Linked DNA regions of Homo sapiens. The protein of the gene in region 1 interacts with the protein of each later gene in a biochemical or structural test. Each region holds a gene or a part of one and is shown in the gene's direction. Other genes may lie near its edges.

Region 1 (7,459 bases):
TCTTTTTTTTTTTTCTTTTTTTTTTGAGATGGAGTCTCGGTCTGTCACCCAGGCTGGAGTAGAGCGGCAAGATCTCAGCTCACTGCAAACTCCGCCTCCCGGGTTCAAGCAATTCTTCTGCCTCAGCTTACCAAGTAGCTGGGATGACAGGTATGCACCACCACGCCCAGCTAATTTTTGTATTTTTAGTAGAGACGGGGTTTCACCATGTTGGCCAGGCTGGTCTTGAACGCTTGACCTTGTGATCCGCCTGCCTTGGCCTCCCAAAGTGCTGGGATTACAGGCGTGAGCCACCGCGCCCAGCGAATTTTTATATTTAGTAGAGATGGGTTTTCACTATATTGATCAGGCTGGTCTCAAACTCCTGACCTCAAGTGATCCACCCGCCTCAGCCTCCCAAAGTGCTGGGAATACAGGTGTGAGCCACCACGCCTGGTTGAAAAATAAAAAGTTATTTTTTATCATTTAGTTATTAGAATTATTTTTAAAAACAACAATCTAAGCCCTCTTTAGTAACAAGACATTTTTGGCACAAAATTCCAAAAAAATTAAAGTACATGCAAATAAACTTTTAGGATACAACCCATTTTATCCAAGATTGCCCTTTTACAGTAAAAAAAAAAAAAATTCTTCTCTCTGGGTGCAGGCGCAGTGGCTCACGCCTATTATCCCAGCACTTTGGGAGAGCGAGGAGGGCGGATCGCTTGAGCTCAGGAGTTTGAGACCAGTCTGGGAAACACGGTGAAATCCTGTCTCTACAAAAAATATGAAAAATTAGTCAGGTGTGGTGGTTCATGCCTGTGTTCCCAGCTACTTTGGAGGCTGAGGTGGGGGAATTGCTTGAGGCCTGGAGGTGGAGGCTGCACTGAGCCATGTTGGGACCACTGAACTCCAGCCTGGGTGGCAGAGTGAGACCCTGATCTTGAAAAAAAAAAAAATTATCTCGTTGGAATGTATACCAACTGACAGTGGTATTTGCCAGTAAGAATTTCTTGCTCATTTCCCTAAAGGAATGAGATAATACAGGACTTTAGTGTATGCATCCCTTCATTTCAAATATGAACAATTCTGAATCTCTTATCAAGGCCTTATAATTCTTTACCTACAGAGAAGTAGATGAAATGACTAAGTAAACATTCAGAGGTTTAATCAAGTCTGGTTTCAAAATCAGGAATATGAATATAAATATCCAAATTTCTATTTCATAAAAACCCATTATTATGGAAGAAAATAATTAAACTGTTTATGACTACAGCAGAATGTACAGGATATATAGAATTGTAATTATCACCACGAACAGGAAAGACAAGAATCTTGATATTTCTATTACACTGAGTACCTTGTAGCTATTTTGTTGAATGTCTTTTCATCTCTGATAATAAGGTGTGAATTAAAAAGAACTATTCCAGAGACTAGGAAATGATGATCCGGAATGATTTGGCAAGGTAAGACAGTAAGTGACAGAGTGGAATCAGAAACTCGCTTTCCTAATTGCCAGCTTAGTACTTCTTATTCTAGGCTGTATTATCTGTGCTGCCGCAAGGCAAACCATATCATTGCCTTTCCCATTTTAGAAATAGGTTGTATAGGAGTTTCCTTTGTGGTCTGATGGCAAGAGACACCTATTATTTAAGAAATGCCAACTGCTGATCATTGATGACAAAATATTTTTACATGTTCCTTATGGATTCAAGTTGTCCGCCATTTCTTCAAATAATCATCACGTTTCTAAGTTTGGTAAGAAAATCAGAAATGACTGAATGTTAAAGAGAAAGGGGCCTTAGGCATTATTTTTCCTATCATCTCAGTGGGGAAACTAAAGCCCAAAGAGTCATATTGGGAGTTGGTGGGAGTCTCCTGACTTCTTGTCCAGGGCTATTTATAGCACATAGCACTGTTTCAGTGGATGAGTATTCTGAAGCCACGGCATAATTGAGACTCTGTACATGGCACCTTCACTCATGTTCAATGTGTCAGTGTGGGGAGTTTGTGTGCCATTTTATCCCTTTATTTTTGTCATCCATTTTATTCAATACTTTCGTTGGTGCCTGATGTTTTTGATAGAAAAAGCAAATAAAAGAGTAAGCAGCAAATGTGAGTTAAAAAAATTTTTTTTTTGAGACAGAGTCTCGCTCTGTCGCCCAGGCTACAGTGCAGTGGCGTGATCTCGGCACACTGCAAGCTCCTCCTGCCGGGTTCACGCCATTCTCCTGCCTCAGCCTCCCCAGCAGCTGGGACTACAGGCGCCCGCCACCACACCCGGCTAATTTTTTGTATTTTTAGTAGAGACGGGGTTTCACCGTGTTAGCCAGGATGGTCTGGATCTCCTGACCTCGTGATCCGCCCGCCTCTGCCTCCCAAAGTGCTGGGATTACAGGCATGAGCCACCGCGCCCGGTCGACAAAAATTTTCTTAACATGAATGCGTGAAGTAAGGCTGTTTGGAATTTAGAAAAGTTGCAATTTTTGATGGAGAGAAAACCAAGAAGGAGTTGAGTGATGGCCGAGGGAGTGGACAACCTCCTACTGCCAGGGCCTCTACTCCTGAACTGTTATGAGGTTGCCTGATTCCTCTTAACAACCCTTCAGGTTAGGGGCCAGCTGTTAACTTAATTTTATTACCAGGGAAGAAACTGAGGCTCAGATAAAGTTCTTTTATCCCACAGGCACACAAACTGCTAACTGATAGAGCCAGATCCAGCCATGTCTGGCTACAAAGCCTGTGTACTTTAACTTCTACAGAGAGTATGTGCGAGGTGAACCAGTAAAAATAACAATAACAAGTGCAATACTAAGAATAGTAATAATGATAGTTAACACAGTGCTTTACATGTGTGATCGCTTTGAACAGGATTAAGTGAACACATGAATAGGACTGGCAGGGAGTCTTTCTACTCTTCATTAGCGAAACAGGAGAGGACATATACAGTACTTAGGATTTCCACTGGCTTACTTTGTTTTCTGAAAAATAACTGAAAGGCTCAATTAGTTTTGTTTTGTCGCATTTATCAGATTATAACGTTCTGGATGTGGGTCTGGATGTGGGTAGTTGGGCTGGTGTGGGATTACATGAAATCAAACCTGATATATTCAGAAAGATTCTTCCGGTGGACACATATGCCTTTTGGGTTCGATATTCAATTTTGTAATTAGTGATCACTGTTCCTATTTATTTATTTATTTATTTGAGACGGAGTTTCGCTCTTATTGCCCAGGCTGGACCACAATGGCGCATTATCGGCTCATCACAACCTCCACCTCCCGGGTTCAAGCGATTCTCCTGCCTCAGCCTCCCCAGTAGCTGGGGTTACAGGCATGTACCACCATGCCCGGCTAATTTTGTATTTTTTAGTAGAGACAGGGTTTATCCATGTTGGTCAGGCTGGTCTTGAACTCCCGACCTCAGGTGATCCGCCCACCTAGGCCTCCCAAAGTGCTGGGATTACAGGCGTGAGCCACCGCGCCCGGCCTGAATGGGAGTTTTTAATCCGTACTTTTTTCTTATTGAAGTTGAATGTCATATACCCCTCTATTTCCCTAGATGAATCCATGAAAGAAGTATGTTGCCCTCTATATGAAAAAGCAAGCTTGTCTTCTGCAGAAAATCAGTAACCACTCCTTTTTACACATAAATACCCCCAAATGAATCTCCGATGACTGATCTGATACTAGTCTGCAATTCTAGTTTTAGCATTAGGCTCACTCCTCATATTTGGGAGAAGATGTCCAATTCTGTAGTAATGTGTAACATAAAGTGGTGTCAATTTATAAATAATATCTTCTAATGAATTAATGCTCATTTGCAATGATCACTTCCATACAAATTTAGGTAAAGATGTTATTCAGAATTGGATTCTCTCTATTTAAAAATGTCATCCTAATGTGCAACTCCCTAAAACTGTTACTACAAACAACTATTTTGCCACTCAGCCTAAAAATAAAACCTTTCACCCAAATGACACATCTTAATAGCCATATTTTAATCTACGTAATTTTAAACTATTCTGAAAGAATCCATTTCTAGATGTCAGACAAGAGTTGAAACTGGGACAGCAGTTTGAAGGGGCTAATTTAAAAACCCACTTGCTTGGAGACACCTCAAGAATTTCTAGGCTCACAAGGTGGGTGAAGTAAGGAAAGAGACTAAGAGCTGAACAGTGCCGTTCTTTGCGAGCCCCCACTGGCGCAGGCTGAGCCGGCTGCGGCTAGGGCTGCGAAGAGTTAACGAGGGACCGAGCCCCAGCGCCGCGGGCTCCCCGCATGCTCCCTCCGCCCTCCCGTCCCCACCCTCTCGTTTTGGCAAGGGATTAAAGTGCTCCCCCCTGTGGCAGCAGTGACCCAGAAATGAGTTTGATTCACATAGTCCTTCCTCCATAACAAGCCAAACGCCAGACCGAGAGTGCCTCCGTGCGCGAGTGCCCGGTGTGTGCGCGCCGGCGAGAGCAGGGGCCCGCCCGGCTCCCCGCCCGCCGCGGCCCGAACTCATGCAGCTCCGAGCGAGCGAGCGGCGCCCAGCCCAGCGCCTCGGCCGAACCCCTCCGCAGCAGGTACGCGCGCGGGCCGCGGGGGGCGCGCGGGGTGGGCGCGCCGCGCGTGTGTCCGCGCGTGTCCGCGTGTGGGTCCGTGTGCGCGTCCCGGTCCCGCGGCGGCGACGGCGGCGGCGGCGGCGGCGGCTGCAGGACGAGCCGAGAGGCTCAGCCATATTTGATGGTTTTGTTGCTTTGCTCGGGAGTTCTCGGGAGTAATTTAATGCCGAAGGTCGCTGCCTAGTGGAAATAATATAATACGTCATTAATATGGCGCCAAAAGATTGGGTTCTCGATCTGTAGCGAGGAGGGAGGGAGGCAGCCGCTGAGCGCAGCGTTACTATCCCACCAGTAACTTGGGCATTGCCGGGGCGGGGGCCGGAGGAGGAGGAGAGGATGATTTTTGGATCCTGAGAATTGATCTATGTTGGATCAGTAAGTTTTATTATGATTTTTTTTTTCAAATTTGGGGGGCTGAAGACTTAGAGCTATTTCTTCTTTTGGATTTGCGAAGAACATGCGGTTTTCAGGTGAATCATCAATTAAACGCGTTTAGGAGCAGAAGCCCAGTTTAAGTTGGCTTTAGTTTATAGGTTTTTTTTTTTTTTTTTTTTTTTTAGAAAGCCAAAGTGCATTAGGCTGCATGAAAGTGGAAAGCATAGTAGCAACTTGGTAGACAGATGGCAATGGCAGAACGCAGGTTCGCGTACATATATGAATCCAGAGTGTGTGAGACCGTGTGTGTGGTGGGACTGTATTTGTCCAAACATAGGTGTGCGTAGGTACATCTGTGTGTGGTGGCCGCAGCCCTGGCTCTTGTCACCGCGTCACCACATGTCCAAAATATTCATTGCATCAATTCAAGGGCAGTGAGAGGGGGGTGGGGGTGGGGGTGGAGGGACAGTTTGGCAATTAGATTCTTCCGAACTGGGCTTCCAGTGATCAGATCTTTTACTTACAGCGCGACTGCTTGTAAAGTGTAAAACCCCTTAATCGATGAAATGGGGTAGGAGTTGGCGTTGGTAGAGCAAAGTACCGATTAATCGTGAACTTAAAGGGGATTGCAAATTGCAACCTTTGGCACCATCTGCAAATTGTGGGGGTGGGGTCTCTTGGTCTCCTTGCTTCCTTAAATGAACGTGTAGTGTGTACCCCGGGACTGCAAGTTGCAGAGCCCTTCAGTGCACGTGTCTTGTGCCTGTGAGTCTGTGTTTGCGAGTTGGGGGCTGTTGTTCGGTAGCCAGCAGGCTTTCCGGGTTGCTCGGCATTGGCTTGCAAATGCGGGAGAGGGATGGAATGTGGAATGTTGACCGGGGAACCGAATCCTGTCGGAACGGTCCCATTTGCTGGAGAAATTCGATCCCTTCCACCTCCTTCCCGCTCCCCCCCGCCCGCCTTCGGGCAGGAGGCGGGGCTGAGGACGCGGCTGCTGCTCAAAGTGGCGGAGCGCGGCGGCGGGAGGCAGGTGCACGGCACCCGCCAGTGGGGGTGCCTCAACTTCCGCGGGCGTTTAAATAGCAGCCTCTCTCCCCTCCCACCGGTAATAGGTGACCTGGCGGCCGAGGGCGGCGGGGGAGGGAACCGGGGGAGACTCGGGAGCGAGCCTCCGCGGCACGTGGGCAGGTGCTGGGTGGCCCCGGGGCCAACTTTTGTAGCCCGCCTCTGGTGTTTGAGGAGAGGCGGCCCAGTGTGGAAATGGGGGCGGGCGGCGGCCGAGGCGCTGCTTCTCCGCTGCGGCCGGAGCGTCACCTAACGGTCCCAGCTGCGCCGCCCGGGCCGGGGTGGGGGGTTGCGGGGGCGGGGACGCCCGGCCCGCCGCGCCCGCCCCGCACAAAGCCCGCGGCGCGGGGGTGGCCGCTGCGCCCCCGCCCCGGGAACGGCCCGAAGCCCGACGCGGTCCCCGCGCCGGTTCCGGCGGGCGGCCGCAGGCGTTTGTTTGTTGGTTCCGCGCCGCCTTCCTCGCCGGATGGCTTCCTGTGACAGAGGTGATACACAGTTTCCAGAACTGTCTGGGGGCGGGAGCGGGAGCGGGAGCCGAGCCCGCTCGGAGCTCCTCGCCGCCGCTGCCGCTCCCATCTTAAAACCGTTTCTCGCCGGCGCGCCCGCCCCAGCCCGAAGGTGCCGCCCCGGAGGGACTCGGGGAGGGGGACGGCGCGGCCGTTTCCAGCGGCGCAAGTGGCTTCTGGACGCGAGGGAGCGTTTGATTTGCAACTGGGGCCGAGCGGATTGGTGCAGCTGGCGGCGGCGGGGCGGGAGGAGCTGCCGCGGCGGGGGGTGGCCACTTTCAAATGGAGAGGGCGGCGGCGGCGGGGACGCCGCTGCGGAGGGAGCGGGGCTTGGTTGCGCCACGAGAAGGTGTCATCACTGCACCGGGGCTAATTCCGGCGGAGGTGCCGGGAGTTACTTTCCCCTCCTCCCGCGCTGTTGTTTCTGTCGCCTCGGGAGGAGGAGGAGGAGGAGGATTGGGAGAGAGGGAGGGGTCGGCGCCGCGCGGAACCGCGGCCCTGCGCATTCCCCGGCGGGCGGCGGGAGCCGCGCGGAGCGTTCGCCGCTGCGGGGCGGCGGCCGAGCTCCCCCACAACCCCGGGGTGCCCCCCTTGCTGGGATCCTTAGCCTTCTCACGTCCCCTCTCACTCCGCCACCCTCCCACTAGAGCTCCTTATTCTCGAGTCCTCAACCCCGGCTTGGCGCGTCCCGGGTCTCCCCTCGCCCCAGGATTCCTCCCGCGCCAGGCTCCGCTGGCCCCAGGTTTCCCACCCCAAGCGGGTGGGGGCGGCCGCAGTCCCGGCGCCGGTGAATGCTGAGAGCAAACAAAAAAGCGGGCGATTTAAACATGCCTTCGAAACCCGTTAGGAATGCGTCGTCATCCGGAGACCGTTTAAAAGGAGCTTTAGCTTGCCTTCTAGTAACGAGAGGGCTGGCGCCCTGCCTTAC
Region 2 (7,160 bases), on another chromosome or scaffold:
GCTGTTATGAGACTATATTAAAATTTTGACATAGGAATCACTTAGCAATGTCTGCAAACCACAGATATCTTGGAGCAGAGTATATTTCTCTAGTTCACATATGCATTCTGTCTCAACAATTTAGCAGTAGCCCTGTTTCAGTACATGTCTGCTATAGTCCCATTTACAAAAAGAACCGAGCCTACATTTATCTTAGAATGGCTCACTCCAGCGTACGGACCCCTAGCCTTCGGAAATGTTCATGTTGGCTATCATTTTGTCTTCCTTAGTAATCTCAGAAAATCATGGCCATCAGACCTGAGCTCACCCCCACTTCCTACTGTGCCTTGATATCTTCTCCCTTCCCTCCTGCATCTTTTCTTTGTTCCTAACTATAGGAAATAAATAAGAGACACCCTTCCTCATTTCTCAAACTCACTCCCACCACCAATCTGTGATCTTGTTCCCCCAACCCCCCGCCCCCTCCCAATGCAGTCTTCCTCCTCCACCCCATCAGAGGTCTCCCTGTTTCAGGAGCAGTGATCTGCTCCTGTGGGCTCTCTTAGGAGTCATGCTGTTTATTCCTTTTCATTTTCAAACTTCTTGCGTCCTCACCTTAAACTCCTCTAGTTTTTTTCCCCTCCTCTGCTTAATCTGTGCCCTCATTTCTTCCCAATCCTTTGGACTCTTCTCAAGTCCCATTTTGCTGGACCTTTCTGCAAGTGTTACATTTTACCCTCATCTTTCTGGAAACTTCTCATTCCATTTCCTAAATGTGGTCATTCACTTAGGACTCGGTCCCTGGGCTCCCTCTCTTCCTTTGTCATCCCTGAGGAGCTGTTTCACCTCTCACAGCTTCAGTCAGTCCCCTCCAGGGAGATGATTTCTGAATGTGTGTCTAGGCCTGGCCTCTCTCCCAAGCTGCTGCTGGACATTTCCATTTGTGTGGCAGTCACCACCAACCCAACACAGCTAACACAGTCAGTGTTCATATTTAGTTGGCGCTGTATTATAGTACATGTTTGAAAAAGTGTTTAAATATTGGATAGCCCGTAGCACTGGGCACCATTGGAGCTGTCTAAAGCTGTCACTTCCCTGCTCAAAACCCTTTGCTGGGTGACATCTTTGCCTGCCATTCAGGGCTCTCTGATACTGAGTGGAATCTACATCTTTGCCCTTACTCCTTTTTTTTTTTTTTTTTTTTTTTTTTTTTTTTGAGACGGAGTCTTGCCCTGTCGCCTAGGCTGGAGTGCAGTGGTGCGATCTCGGCCCACTGCAGCCTCTGCCTCCCGGGTTCAAGTGATTCTCCTTCCTCAGCCTCCCGAGTAGCTGGGATTACAGGCATGTGCCACCACATCCAGCTAGTTTTTTGTATTTTTGTAGAGATGGGGTTTCACCATGTTGGCCAGGCTGGTCTCGAAGTCCTAACCTCAGGTGATATACCCGCCTTGGCCTCCCAAAGTGCTGGGTTTACAGGCATGAGCCGCTGCACCTGGCCATAGTTCTCTCTTAAGGTTGTGTTTAAACATCCCAGCCACTTACTTTCAACAAAACAAAGCCTTTCCCTGGAGTGGCCTCTCCTATGCCATAGCTGGCAGGACTTGGGGGTCAGTGTGGCTGGGACTGCCTCGGCCGTTTTTCGTCCGTAACTGCTTCCCTCTGGTGACACTCAGCAGCTCCTTTTATCTTCCTCTGTTTCCTCCTCCTCATTGGTGACCTTGCTCTTCCTTTCTCTCTCTCAAAGGCCTTGTCCTAGTAAGTACTTAATATACATTTGTTTCCTTGAATACATTAAAGAGGGCTGATAGTATCAAATTCTAGTGTCAAAAAAAGGTCAATATTTATCTTCTACAAAGGAAGACGCAAAATAGTCAACCCATTAGAGGTTAAAAATAAAATTGTTAAAGTTTGAATAAATATTTCTCAATTAAGGTAAATTCCTACCTAATCATGGGCTACTTTAATCTCATCAAAATCATTAGCATAAAATTTTGTTATAATGAATTTGAAGGGCTCTAAGTCTCAAGTCTGCAAACCTTTTCTGTAAAGGACCACATTGGCCAGATGTGGCCTTTATCACACATTCTGTTTATTATTTTTTAAGACAGTTTTTAAAATATAAAAACATTCTTAGCTAGGCCCTGTGCTAGTTATTCAAATCTGGTAGGCCCATTTGGCCATTCAGCTTATCTTCCTATTGCAGTGAGTCCCCGCAACTCTATAGGAGGAAAAACAAAGCCACAAGGGTGTGTTTTTGTGTGGCTTGCATTTTGAATAGGTTTCTGTCATGTCTTTTCCTATTGTGTGGAGGCTGTTCACTTGAAAACAGTATGCACTTAGAGTTTTTAGGAACAAGTTTGTTTATTCAGCAGTTCTTAAAAGCCGTTTCAGCAGTCTTATTCAGCCTAGGGTTCCACCAAGGCTGTAGCAGCGGAAATCTACCTTCAGGTAAATTATACATGGAAAAACCACTCAGAGCCGAGTGGTGTCTCCGTATAGCAGCTTAGTCCTGAGCAGATTGAGCGATGGTTTTTGCCAGCTGCTTCAAAAACCTGACAGGCAGGATCTGTTTAGACTAAAATCGATTCCTAAAATAATAGACCTGGACTGACCGTAATTATGTAACTGCAGATCTAAAAATGATGAAGGATTTCCTTATAAATTACTATGGAATCATGACTGGTCCTATACTATCTGGGAGATGAAAGTAAAAAGAAAGCGTGGGGCTCCCATTTCCCTGGTCCCTGAAGAGTTCTTGGGGTGCTGCAGCACACACATTCCCCTGCAAGCTGAGCCTGCTGTGTTGCTCTTCCCAATACCCCTTTCCTCAGGGGGCAAAATGCAGAAACCCTGTCCCAAAGAAGTCTCCCTATGGGATTCTCCTTAGCTGTAGTGATCATGATTACTGTCATCTTTGTCCCCCCTGGTGTTCAAGGTAAGTTTGAACCTCCGCAGCCTTGCCAGCTTTTTGGGGTCGCCAAAGCACATGCCTGCCCACTCACTGCCCTTGTTGTCTTTCTCCCACCCCGTGCAGAGTACATCCAGAAATACGCCACGGAGGAGGCGCTGAAAGAACAGGAAGAGGGTACCGGGGACAGCTCATCGGAGAGCTCTATGTCTGACTTTTCCGAAGATGAGGCCCAGGATATGGAGTTGTAGTAGAAAAAGCACCTGCTTTTCAGAAAGACTATTATTTCCTAACCATGAGAAGCAGACTATAATATTCATATTTAAACAAAGCAATTTTTTTTATTACTAAACAAGGTTTTTATGAATAATAGCATTGATATATATATATTATATATCACCCTTTAGATCTTGATTTCTTGGTCATTTCTCAACCTGAGGTGCATAGCATATTCCCACATTCCATTTGGTAGCAATATGCGGTCTGAATGCATGCATTCATGAGTCCATGTGGCCAAGTCAGCCTGTGTGCTACTGAACTGTCGAAGGAAATAGCCGCTCTGATAGGTAGATGTGAGTAAAAAGAACAGGAAAAAATTGCTTCTTTTATTGGTTTCCAAAGAAACAAACCAAACCAACCAGCTCTTGGATGTGAAGATAAAATAGTGCTTTTTTGAAATGGAGAGGAAAAACTTGGGGAGGAAGAGGCCTGCTGTGGGGGCATCGGAGCCAGCCATGTAAGAATCAGAGCTGCTCCTTCCTGTGAATCCTAGGTGGCCCTATGTCTTCTGTGGAGTTACAGTATAAAGCAGGGAGCTAATTAAGAGTATTAAAACTTAAAACCATTTTTTGACTCTGATTTTAAGTACATTTTTATATGTCAGTTGCTGCCCTTCACACTACCAGGCCCTGCAGCCACAGTGTTCTGTTGGAGAAACTTGGGGAAGTGTTTTCTGAACCAGTTCTTTTTCTTGGGGTAGAGCGTGAAATCCAGACCTGTTTTTGAAAGGACAGCACAGGAGGAGAAAAGTGACTGGGACGATGCTTCCTCTCATCCAAAACACATGCAGAGTCACATCCTCATCCTAGTGTTTGGCAGTTTGAGACCGCTACCCTGAACTTAAGAGCTTTAAATATGAGGGTTGTGTTTCTGGGGGGGTTATTTTTTTGGTGTGTGTGTGTGTGTATTGTGCTTAGAAAGGTTGCAGATTTCATCTTCACCTACCAAGAGGCGGCCGCCTCCTTGGACAAGCCGCTCATGGACCATTAGACTTGAGAAGACGACCCACGTGGTGACTGCAAAGCCCTGGGTACTTGCCTTCATGTTCTGGTTTGGTTTTCCCTTTTTCTGCTGCTCTTGGCAGCAGCCTGGTCATCATCTGCTTGTGGGAGTGGGAAATGGGTATTTTAGACCCAACACAGGTTCTAAATTTAAAACAAATAATAATTGGAACAAATAAAGGTTCTTGTACCCAGAGTGATTCTACATGGGAAAAACAAACCAGCTTTTTTCAGAGAGTGACCGAATAGGAAGAAGGGATTCAGAAATATGATGTAGTAGAACATGCCCTGCAGGAAGAAAATGTTTTCTCTCCTGCGTATGTTAAGAGGAAATCAGTTTAAAATGCCTGCTAATCAAATGTCGACTCAGCTAACCATATGTCCAGGTTGCTGCAGAGTTTCTTTCAAATCTGAGTGTTGCCTGCTGAACTCGGAGGGGAGTTTGGAGAAATTTTAGACAGCAGCTCTGTGTTCTTTTTTTGCCGCAGCCAATAAGATAATAGCAGAATTAGCCAATCCTAAAACCTTCTAAAGACGATTTTTGAGCATCCCACTGGGATTATTTAATTTTTCTTTTTGACGTGTGTTTTTAGTTTAGAAGTGCTGTATTCCACAAGGTTTAAGTCAGTGAGGTTGGAAGATACCCTATCTTTTTTATTCAAAAAGCACAATCAATCTTTTGTTTGAAAATCTATATAAAGTACAACTTGCTTTTAGCATGATTATTTTCCTAAATAAAAAGACAAAGAATTTACTTACTTTATGTTAATTACGGGCATGAAGCAAAAGGTTTTCTTTAAAAAAAAAAAAAAGTGCAGTGATGTAGGGCTGTGGTTAGTTAACCGTACTGAGTTATCCATCTAGCATCTGTGGCTTGCTGGAAGGGTAGTATTAACTATTTAACATGTAATGGTGTACTTCACTCTTACCTAGCACGCTGTCTTCTCATTGCTTTGGGGGAGGGAGGGTCTCTCTGCTGGCACTGTCTAACTTGCTTACCTGCTGACTTTGCAGTTTGCTTGTGCTATGACATTTATTGTAGGTGCTATTTAGGGTAGGCTTAAAGTGCTGGGTGGTGATTTGAGTTCAAACAATAAAAAATTGTATTTTTTCAATATTGTATAAACAATAGTGTTCTAATTACCTTAAAAAAAAATAATGACCAGTTAAGAATTGCTTTTGATCTTGTCAAAAAACTGAATAGACCCCAGTTTCGGGAAGGTGTGTGAGCAGTGCCATGACTCTGCCCCTTACCTAATCCCACATCTCTCTAATGATAAGACATTGGCTCGCCTCTGACCAGAGCCCCAGCACCAGAGAGCGGAAGATGCAGAATTGTCAAATGACCTGCTGGGGGAGGTTGTAGGAGTTTAGCAGATTTGAGTGTGGCTGCAGAGAGAGAGAGTGTGTGTATGTGTGCACATGTGTGAGAGTGTGAGCGAGAGTGTGTGTGTGTCCATCTAAGTGTGTGTGATGAAGGTGGGATAAGGCTCCTCTGTTAGTGCTGGAAGCTCCTGTAATTGCCGCATGGATCCCACTGTGCCCTCTTGTTCTGTGCAAGTCTGTCCTGTCTGGGCACTAACCTTGGTCCCATGCATGTTTATGTTCTGGGTGGGGCTTTGCCTCTCCACTGGGAAACTGACTTTTGCTGGGTTGAACAGAGTCCCTTATGCTTTTTGTCCTCTCCCTGCGCCTGGGAGAGGTGGGAGTAGGAGCCCAAACACACAGGTACAGAAAGATCTGGAAGAAGGCCTGGCAGTGAATCCAAGGACTCTGGGCCCCCAACAATAGATGGTAGCGTAAGTCTGGAGCAGCGGTGTTTCACCACCAAATGCCTTTCCAGGCTGCCCTTCCAACACTCAGGAGAGCATCCAGATCCCTGGGCAGAGGCTCTACATTCTTGGCTTTAGAGGTGGTGGCAGCGGCAGCAGGTCAGAGCCACTTCTGGCGGTTTCCCTCCCCTTTTTAGTGCCCATAGTTTTTGGATCCTCCCTTGAGTTTTACCAGCACAAGCCATTCTTTGCCCCTGTTCACATAACTGAGCTCAAGCTCTTGCCAAACACCAACAAGCAAGATGGTTGCAACCTGGCAACATTGAATCCACCACCCTTGGGCTCCCTCTGGAAGCCCCAGCACCGGGGGGCTTTTGGGCACAGGGTCAGTGGTAGCCATCTTAGACACTGACATTTGGCTTTGTCGTCAATTTCATCACCCTCCTTGAGGTTACTGTGCAGTTTCAACCAGCATTTTATCCTAGTGAGGTCATTATCAGGAGTTGCCATATCATCTCTCCAGTACCTAACATTTCTCATCCACTTCAAAAGCTGTTCTGACTGCCAGCTGGCTGATCTAAGCTCCTGAGGAATGTCTCCTCTCAAAGGAATTTTTCCCTCCAAAGGCCCCCTGAAGTCCTAGTTGGCATTGGCCTGGCACATGCTTTATGTTAGGCCTCCCGTTGGGATGGCTGAGAATCATGAAAGACAGATCCTCCGCTAGCCTCTGTGGGTCAAGTTTCTGGACACCAAGTCTCTGGGAACTAGTGTTTGATTTTAAATGGCATGTGGCCCTTCCTTGTTTCAGTGACTTAGAAAAGTAAAAGCCATTTAAAAAAGTTAGCAAGATTTTTTATCGACTTCCCAACTGGGCTTCCAGCCTTGTTGAATGAAATCATCTATCTCTGATTGGGCGCAACGAACTGCATTTCTTTGGACTTCTGAATCCATGTTTGTGCTTTCTCTGGCCCGTGAACACCTCGGCGATTCTGTTAGGGATGGGATGAGTGGGAGGAAGCCCTTTGAGAAGGGGGAGCCGGCCCTGTCATGCGCAGGTTTTCCACTCATCTGAGGAAGAGCCAGGGCTCTGAATTTAGCCTAACACTCATCTTGGCTGTGGGCTTGGGAAGAAATGGCCATTATTTACAGATTGTATTTGGTACATATTGTGTGATACTTGAAAAGATAAAAGGGACTGCCAGCCCCTAACTGAAATCTGAA
Region 3 (7,000 bases), on another chromosome or scaffold:
TTCCATGCCTGTTCTTATTCCCGTTGCTTCAGGTGTGATCACTGAAATGAAATGATCTTCCTTTGGCTTGGCTTCTGTTTCTGAACAAATAATAATTGTTACATGAGTTTGGTTATTGTTGGGAAGAGCCAGCATGAGTAAAGGGGTAGAGATAGGAACAAACTACAGATGGAATTTTCTTGGATGGATTCCAGTTAATAAATATTTGGATTTACATATGACAAATTGGAACATGCTTCTTGAGTTGACAAAAAGAGTTGCAGTAAATTTGCTTAATAGAAAGTGTTTCATGGGCCAGGTGCGGTGGCTCATACCTGTAATCCCAGCACTTTGGGAGGCTGAAGTGGGAGGATTGCTTGAGGCCAGGAATTTGAGACCAGCCTGGGCAAAATAGTGAGACTCTGTTGCTTCAAAACCCTTTTGAAAAATTAACTAACCAGGCATGGCGCCATGCGCCTATAATCTTAGCTACATGGGAGGATCTTTTGAGCCCAGGAGTTCGAGGCTGCAGTGAGCTATGATCGTGCTATTTCAGCCTGGGTGACAGAGTGACACCCTATCTCAAAAAAAAAAACTTTTTTTTATACGTCTATACTTTTTAAACACTTTTTTCTTTTTTTTTTTTGAGACAGAGTCTCGCTCTGTCACTTAGGCTGGAGTGCAGTGGTGCAATGTCGGCTCACTGCAGCCTCCACCTCCCGGATTCTTCTGCCTCAGCCTCCAGAGTAGCTGGGATTACAGGCCCCCGCTGCCACACCTGGCTAATATTTGTATTTTTAGTAGAGACGGGGTTTCACCATGTTGGCCAGGCTGCTGTCAAACTCCTGACCTCAGGTGATCTGCCCACCTCAGCCTCCCAAAGTGCTGGGATTACAGGCGTGAGCCACCGCATCAGGCCTTAAACATTTTAAAATGTAAACCTTTTGAAGAATTCACCTAACAGCAGATGGCTGGCTGGCTGGCTGCATTAAAACAGTAAGCACTTGAGGGTGAGGAAAAGGGGGTACTTTGTGCTCCCTTGTGGCCAAGTGACCCTAGCTTCCTGCTGCTCAGCTAGGCTGCTTGCCTTTTTTTTTTTTTTTTTTTTTTCTTTTTTTGCCACAGGACTTTCTCTTAATTTCCTTATATAACAAAGGGAATGCACTTGCAGGGGAGAAGGGCAGACAGGTAGTGGTACATGGTTTTTATCATTGTGAGTGGGTTTTCTAATCTGAACAAAGAAGGCCATCATGGTTAGGTGGTAATGAGAAGTTATGGGTAAAGGTGAGAGTAAAGTACTTAGCCACCCTAAGCTGCTGGAAATAAGCTGCTTAAGAATTTCCTGTTGGCTTGAGGCATTTGGTAATAAGCAAGCGTATTGTTATTTATTTGGCCTTTATGTAGTGGGTGATTTTAATCTCCTGGGCTAAAGTAGTGCCAGAATGTAATCCAGAATACTTGTTCCAGATTGCTATAAAAGTGTCATAAATATATTCAAATGACTTTGGAAGCCTTTGTTTTATGGAAATAAAATCTCTGTTTTGCTGTATGTTCTCAGCTTGTCCAACTGTCCGGTAGCTCAGTTAACCACATTTGACCTGTCATTCCTTTTCCCTTTTGAGGAGCAGTCTTGTTGGGAGGCTTTGGTTCCCTGATGTGAATTTCATTGTCTTGCAGGCCAAATGTGTGTGGAAACACCCACCTGGTGATGAGATATATCGCAAAGGTTCAATCTCTGTGTTTGAAGTGGATGGCAAGAAAAACAAGGTAAAAAGTGGTGACTTTAGAAAGGAGTTGAAATGTTGTATATTCACAGGTTTCAGAAGGCATATGTTTTTTCTCCATCACACCTTGTGAAGGACATAGAACTCTTCTCTTGCCAAAATACACAATGTGTTTCATTAATAATTATGGTATGTTTGTGAATTTTAGGCCTTTATCTGTTTAGGAATCAGTGGCCCACACATGAACTCTGTTTCTCTGCTTCCAGATCTACTGCCAAAACCTGTGCCTGTTGGCCAAACTTTTTCTGGACCACAAGACATTATATTATGATGTGGAGCCCTTCCTGTTCTATGTTATGACAGAGGCGGACAACACTGGCTGTCACCTGATTGGATATTTTTCTAAGGTAAGCAGGATCTGGAGATTAAGAAGCCAATGGCCAGAGCAGGGTGATCCATGTTCGCAGTTGGGGGCTCAAATCACTGACAGGAAGAAGCTGTACTCTGGGCAATGATGACACCCCTTCCTTAAATTAAAAAAAAAAAAAAGGCAAACCCATGTATCAAAGATTGTTTAATGAAAATGCAGTTTTTATTAAAAGCTTCTGGTTCATTCATTTCTAGAATTGTGGACTGGAGCTGCCTATTAATAACTGGCCAGAGCCCTCCCTAGTAACTCACAAGCCCACATCTTGTAGTCAAACCAGTTCTGCTGGCTTTGCCTGCCTCTATGTTATTAGCTTAAAACCAGGAATATACTCTTTTTGCCTGATTGTTTAGCTGGGCTCCTTCTAGCACAGTGCCTTCAGTGATAACACTACTGCGCCTTTTAAAGACCCAAGGCCAGATTTTTTTTTTTTTTCTGACAGAGTCTCACTCTGTTGCCCAGGCTGGAGTACAGAGGTATGACCTTGACTCACTGCACCCTCTGCCTCCCAGGTTCAAGTGACCCTCCTGCCTCAGCCTCCTGAGTAGCTGGGATAACAGGCGCCTGCCACCACGCCCAGCTAATTTTTTGTGTGATTTTAGTAGAGATGGTGTTTTACCATGTTGGCCAGGCTGGTCTCGAACTCCTGACCTCAAGTAATCCACTCGCCTTAGCCTCCTAAAGTGCTAGGATTACAGGTGTGAGCCATTGCGCCCGGCCTAAGTCATAAAAGTTTATGACTTTTAGTATAACAACTTTATTGAAATATAATTCATATACCATAAATTCACGCACTGAAAGGGTACAATTTAGTGGTTTATAGTGTATTCACAGAGTTGTGCAATCAACCCAGTTTGCATTATCCTGAAAAGAAATTGATAGCAATCACTCCTATTTCTACTCAATCCCTCTCAGTTCTTCTTTCTCTATAAATTTCCCTATTTTGGACGTTTCCTACAAGTGGAATCACACATTTTGATTTGATTCAATGTGATTTTTTTTTTAATCCCTTTGCAGAATGGGGACTTACAGTGGTGTTTCCTTCCCTTCTCTTCCAGTAGGCAGCTCCTTTTCAAAAATTGCGTTTAAAGTGGGCTTCTATATACTGAGTCAGCAGTCTTAAACTTCTTGCCCTACTCTGTGGCTGTCAGGAGCCCAGAGTCAGCCTCCTTAAAATGACACTGGAGGTCTCAACTAGGGAAATCCTGGGATGATTAATGGCTTTGGCCATGATAAAGGGTGTGGTTATAACAGCTGTGAGCCTGGCAGCCACTCCTTGGGACTGGTTAGCCAGATGTTTTGCAAGCAGCCTTATTTTGCATCTGTGGAAGTGCTGAAACCTTTGGTTTCAAATCCTCATGACGTGTTCATCTGTTTGCTCTTGATTTTAGGAAAAGAATTCATTCCTCAACTACAACGTCTCCTGTATCCTTACTATGCCTCAGTACATGAGACAGGGCTATGGCAAGATGCTTATTGATTTCAGTAAGTGAAACTGCTAAGTCATTAGTTCCACAAGGCAGGGACCATGTGAATATTGTTTGTCTTTTTGTCCTGTGGTCTCTGCAATTCCTGGAATATAGTGAAGGTACATGGATATTTAGTAAATGAATGAACAAGTAGGAAAAACCTGAACATTGTCATTCTGCCTAATACACATTGAACATTGAAGGAGTACAGGACTCCTCCTTAATGAGTAGGAGGTACAGAGGATGATAAAGTAAGCTCTTTAGGATTATCCCAGTTTGAGACTTTTAAACAGCACATACATGCATGAGGCTTAAAATCTGGTCCTTGATGCTAGGGATTTCACTTTTGTAGGGACTTGTCTAGAGGTAATCCATGTACCCAATGGACCCTGTGCATAATATACTCTGCCCTCATTAATTGTGGATTCTGTCTTTGTGAATTTGCTTACTCACTAAATTTTATTTGTAACCCCAAAATCAATCTTAACATTTTTGTGGTCATTCGTGAACATGCACAGAGCAGCAAAAAGTAAGAGTCATGGATGCACACATTCCCAGCTGACTTCAGAGTTTTCAGCTCTTACACTGTAAACAAGTTCATTTTCAGTCTGGGAATGCCACATGGTTTTCGCCTTCTGTTGATTTTAAATGGCCCCTATGAGTAGTACTGATGTGTCTGGTGTTCCTAATCTCAGGAATACCTGGGGTACCTTACAGGGGTTAGGTAGCTTTCTTCAGGTGAATTAGAGAGTTGCTGGCAGTGAGTTCAATGTTAATGATATCAACAGTGTATATTAAATAAGGCATTTTTAAACAGAAACATAAAATAAGTTTATGTATTGATGGTTGACCAATATGTGACCAGAGGCTTGCAGGAACCTAACCCTCCCTGTATTTCCCGTAGGAGTAGTGGTTCAATATTCACTAATTCAGGTTCTCAGTGACTTTATAAAACATAACTGCTGTGAATAACAAGACTCTACTGTGTGTTATTCTATATTTGATGTCCACTGTCATAGGACAGGGTATATTGTAATCAAAATTGGAATTCCTAGAATTAGCCTTCCAAGCCTTCTTTCTTTCTTTCTTTCTTTTTTGAGACGGAATTTTGCTCTTGTTGCCCAGGCTGGAGCACAATGGCCCAATGTTGGCTCACTGCAACCTCCGTCTCCCGGGTTCAGGCAATTCTACTGCCTCAGCCTCACGAGTAGCTGGGATTACAGGCATGTGCCACCACGCCCAGCTAATTTTGTATTTTTTTAGTGGAGACGGAGTTTCTCCATGTTGGTCAGGCTGGTCTCGAACTCCCGAGCTCAGGTGATCCGCCCACCTCAGCCTCCCAGAGTGCTGGAATTACAGGCGTGAGCCACCTTGCCCGGCCACCTTCTTTCATTTTTAAGTCACCTGAGAAGAGATGAACTGGGAAGTGACATAAGAGGGGAACTATATATCTTTGAATAGGTAACACTGTTCTTATAAACTTGATTTTATAGAAATTTTTAAGCATTAACAAAAGTATAATAAATGCTTCTATACCCATCACCCAGCTTCAGTAATTACCGTTTTTTGGGGGGCTAATCTTGTTTTACCTACATTTTCACTTGCCATTATTTTGGTATCTCTAAAAGATAAGGTCTATTACACCTTAAAAAAAAAAGTCCTTCATGTCATAAATTGTGATATTCAAATTTCCCTGGTGTGATTTTGTTCTTTTTTTTATTTTTATTTTTTTAATACTCAGATCCAGGTAGAATTGATAGTGGGATTGAGAAATGTGGCTCATAATTCACTTTTAGTCTAAAACTTTCCACTCCCATCATTTTTTTCTTGCTGTGTTTTTGTTGAAGAAAGCAGGTTAGTTGTCTAAAAGGGTTCCCCAGATTATGAACTTTGCACACTGCATCTCCATAGTGTTGTTTTATATATTTTGTATAAATTGAATGTTAGGTGTTTAGACTTTACAACTAGAGGCTTCATCATTTGGGTTTTTTACACCCCGCACTATCTCATAGGTGGTACTGAGCTAATCTGTTCTTACCATTCAAAGATTTAAAAAATACTTAAAAACTAGGTAGTGAAGTGGCTTCACATTTTTGTTTCTCATCTCCCTTGTTTCCAACACACACCTACAGAGATTCATTATCAAAATAATGGTGAAGGCTTCCAGAGTTCTTTTAGTGCCTATTACAGTAGTGCCCTCCTTATCTGCCATTTCACTTTCTGCAGTTTCAATTACCTGTAGTCAACTGCGGTCCAAAAATAGGTGAGTACAGTACAATAAGATATTTTGAGAGACAGACAACCTTCACATAACTTTTATTACAGTATATTGTTATAATTGTTCTGTTTTACTATTACTCTCTTCCTGTTCTTAATTTATAAGTTAAACTGTAGCATAGATATGTGTTGATAGGAAAATACATAGTATATATAGGATTTGGTACTACCCACAGTTTTGGGCCTCCACTGGGAGTTTTGGAACACATTCCCTGTGAATAAGAGGGGACTCCTGTGTCATGTAAATGCAAATACACATTCTTCCCCTTTTGTTTATACAAAGGCAGTATACTATAGTTAACCACACAGTATTCCATTGAATGACTAAATCCTAATGGAGTGGACTGTGCTTCTTAAACCTTCTTCCATGTTGGCACACAGTTTTTTGCTATTAGGATAAGATCGAGTGTTGCTAGAAAAAGTCTGTATTTGTTCCCTGGCAGGTTATTTGCTTTCCAAAGTCGAAGAAAAAGTTGGCTCCCCAGAACGTCCACTCTCAGATCTGGGGCTTATAAGCTATCGCAGTTACTGGAAAGAAGTACTTCTCCGCTACCTGCATAATTTTCAAGGCAAAGAGATTTCTATCAAAGGTTGGTTTTTGACTCCTTGGAATGGTTGATTGTTACCCAAGAAGTTAACTCTACTGGGTATTGTGTTTCCCCTGAATGTGAGAACGGAAGGCCCACTGAATATGGACCACTGCGGAGACCCTCACTAAAGCTGCCTAGGAATCCAAAGCATTTGGCCCCTGGGAATGGTTATTAATTGGCTTCTCAAATCCAGAGTTGCCAACACTTTAATTCTTATAAAAGTCAAGAAGCAAAACTTCAGATCGTTTGGTTCATCTTTCTGAGAAAGACATCCCTGTGTATTTATGCAAGGGTGGAACAATTTAGTTTGATCTATATTTGATCCTGATTTCTAAGGGGCCAAGAGTAGCTTCTTGCTGTAATATCCTTTTGTGGTTATTTGGACTGGTCAAATGAATACTTTGTAAACTCCTTCTAAACAGATTGGGTTGAGTACAGAAGATTCTGTCCATTTGGATTTCCTTTAAGGGAAAGTAGACCTTGGTTGGGGGCAAAGGGGTGGGAACCTGCACTTTGGCCAGGTTGTCAGTACTT

The links.
Region 2: the proteins of JADE1 (region 1) and UBE2H form a complex in vitro, tested with the Homo sapiens proteins (one study listed by BioGRID).
Region 3: the proteins of JADE1 (region 1) and KAT7 form a complex in vitro, tested with the Homo sapiens proteins (2 studies listed by BioGRID).

The regions. Positions count from the first base shown.
Region 1 is NC_000004.12:128,805,332-128,812,790, forward strand, and holds the start of JADE1 (protein Jade-1), read left to right. Parts: upstream 1-4,368; 5' UTR 4,369-4,546; intron 4,547-4,646; exon of another isoform or gene 4,647-5,042; coding exon of another isoform or gene 5,043-5,055; intron 5,056-5,938; exon of another isoform or gene 5,939-6,072; intron 6,073-6,353; exon of another isoform or gene 6,354-6,491; coding exon of another isoform or gene 6,492-6,510; intron 6,511-6,512; exon of another isoform or gene 6,513-6,643; intron 6,644-7,459.
Region 2 is NC_000007.14:129,830,915-129,838,074, reverse strand, and holds part of UBE2H (ubiquitin-conjugating enzyme E2 H), read left to right. Parts: intron 1-3,013; coding exon 3,014-3,138; 3' UTR 3,139-7,160. UniProt on the Homo sapiens protein: Accepts ubiquitin from the E1 complex and catalyzes its covalent attachment to other proteins. E2 ubiquitin conjugating enzyme that transfers ubiquitin to MAEA, a core component of the CTLH E3 ubiquitin-protein ligase complex.
Region 3 is NC_000017.11:49,819,681-49,826,680, forward strand, and holds part of KAT7 (histone acetyltransferase KAT7), read left to right. Parts: intron 1-1,656; coding exon 1,657-1,746; intron 1,747-1,969; coding exon 1,970-2,110; intron 2,111-3,521; coding exon 3,522-3,615; intron 3,616-6,319; coding exon 6,320-6,466; intron 6,467-7,000. UniProt on the Homo sapiens protein: Catalytic subunit of histone acetyltransferase HBO1 complexes, which specifically mediate acetylation of histone H3 at 'Lys-14' (H3K14ac), thereby regulating various processes, such as gene transcription, protein ubiquitination, immune regulation, stem cell pluripotent and self-renewal maintenance and embryonic development.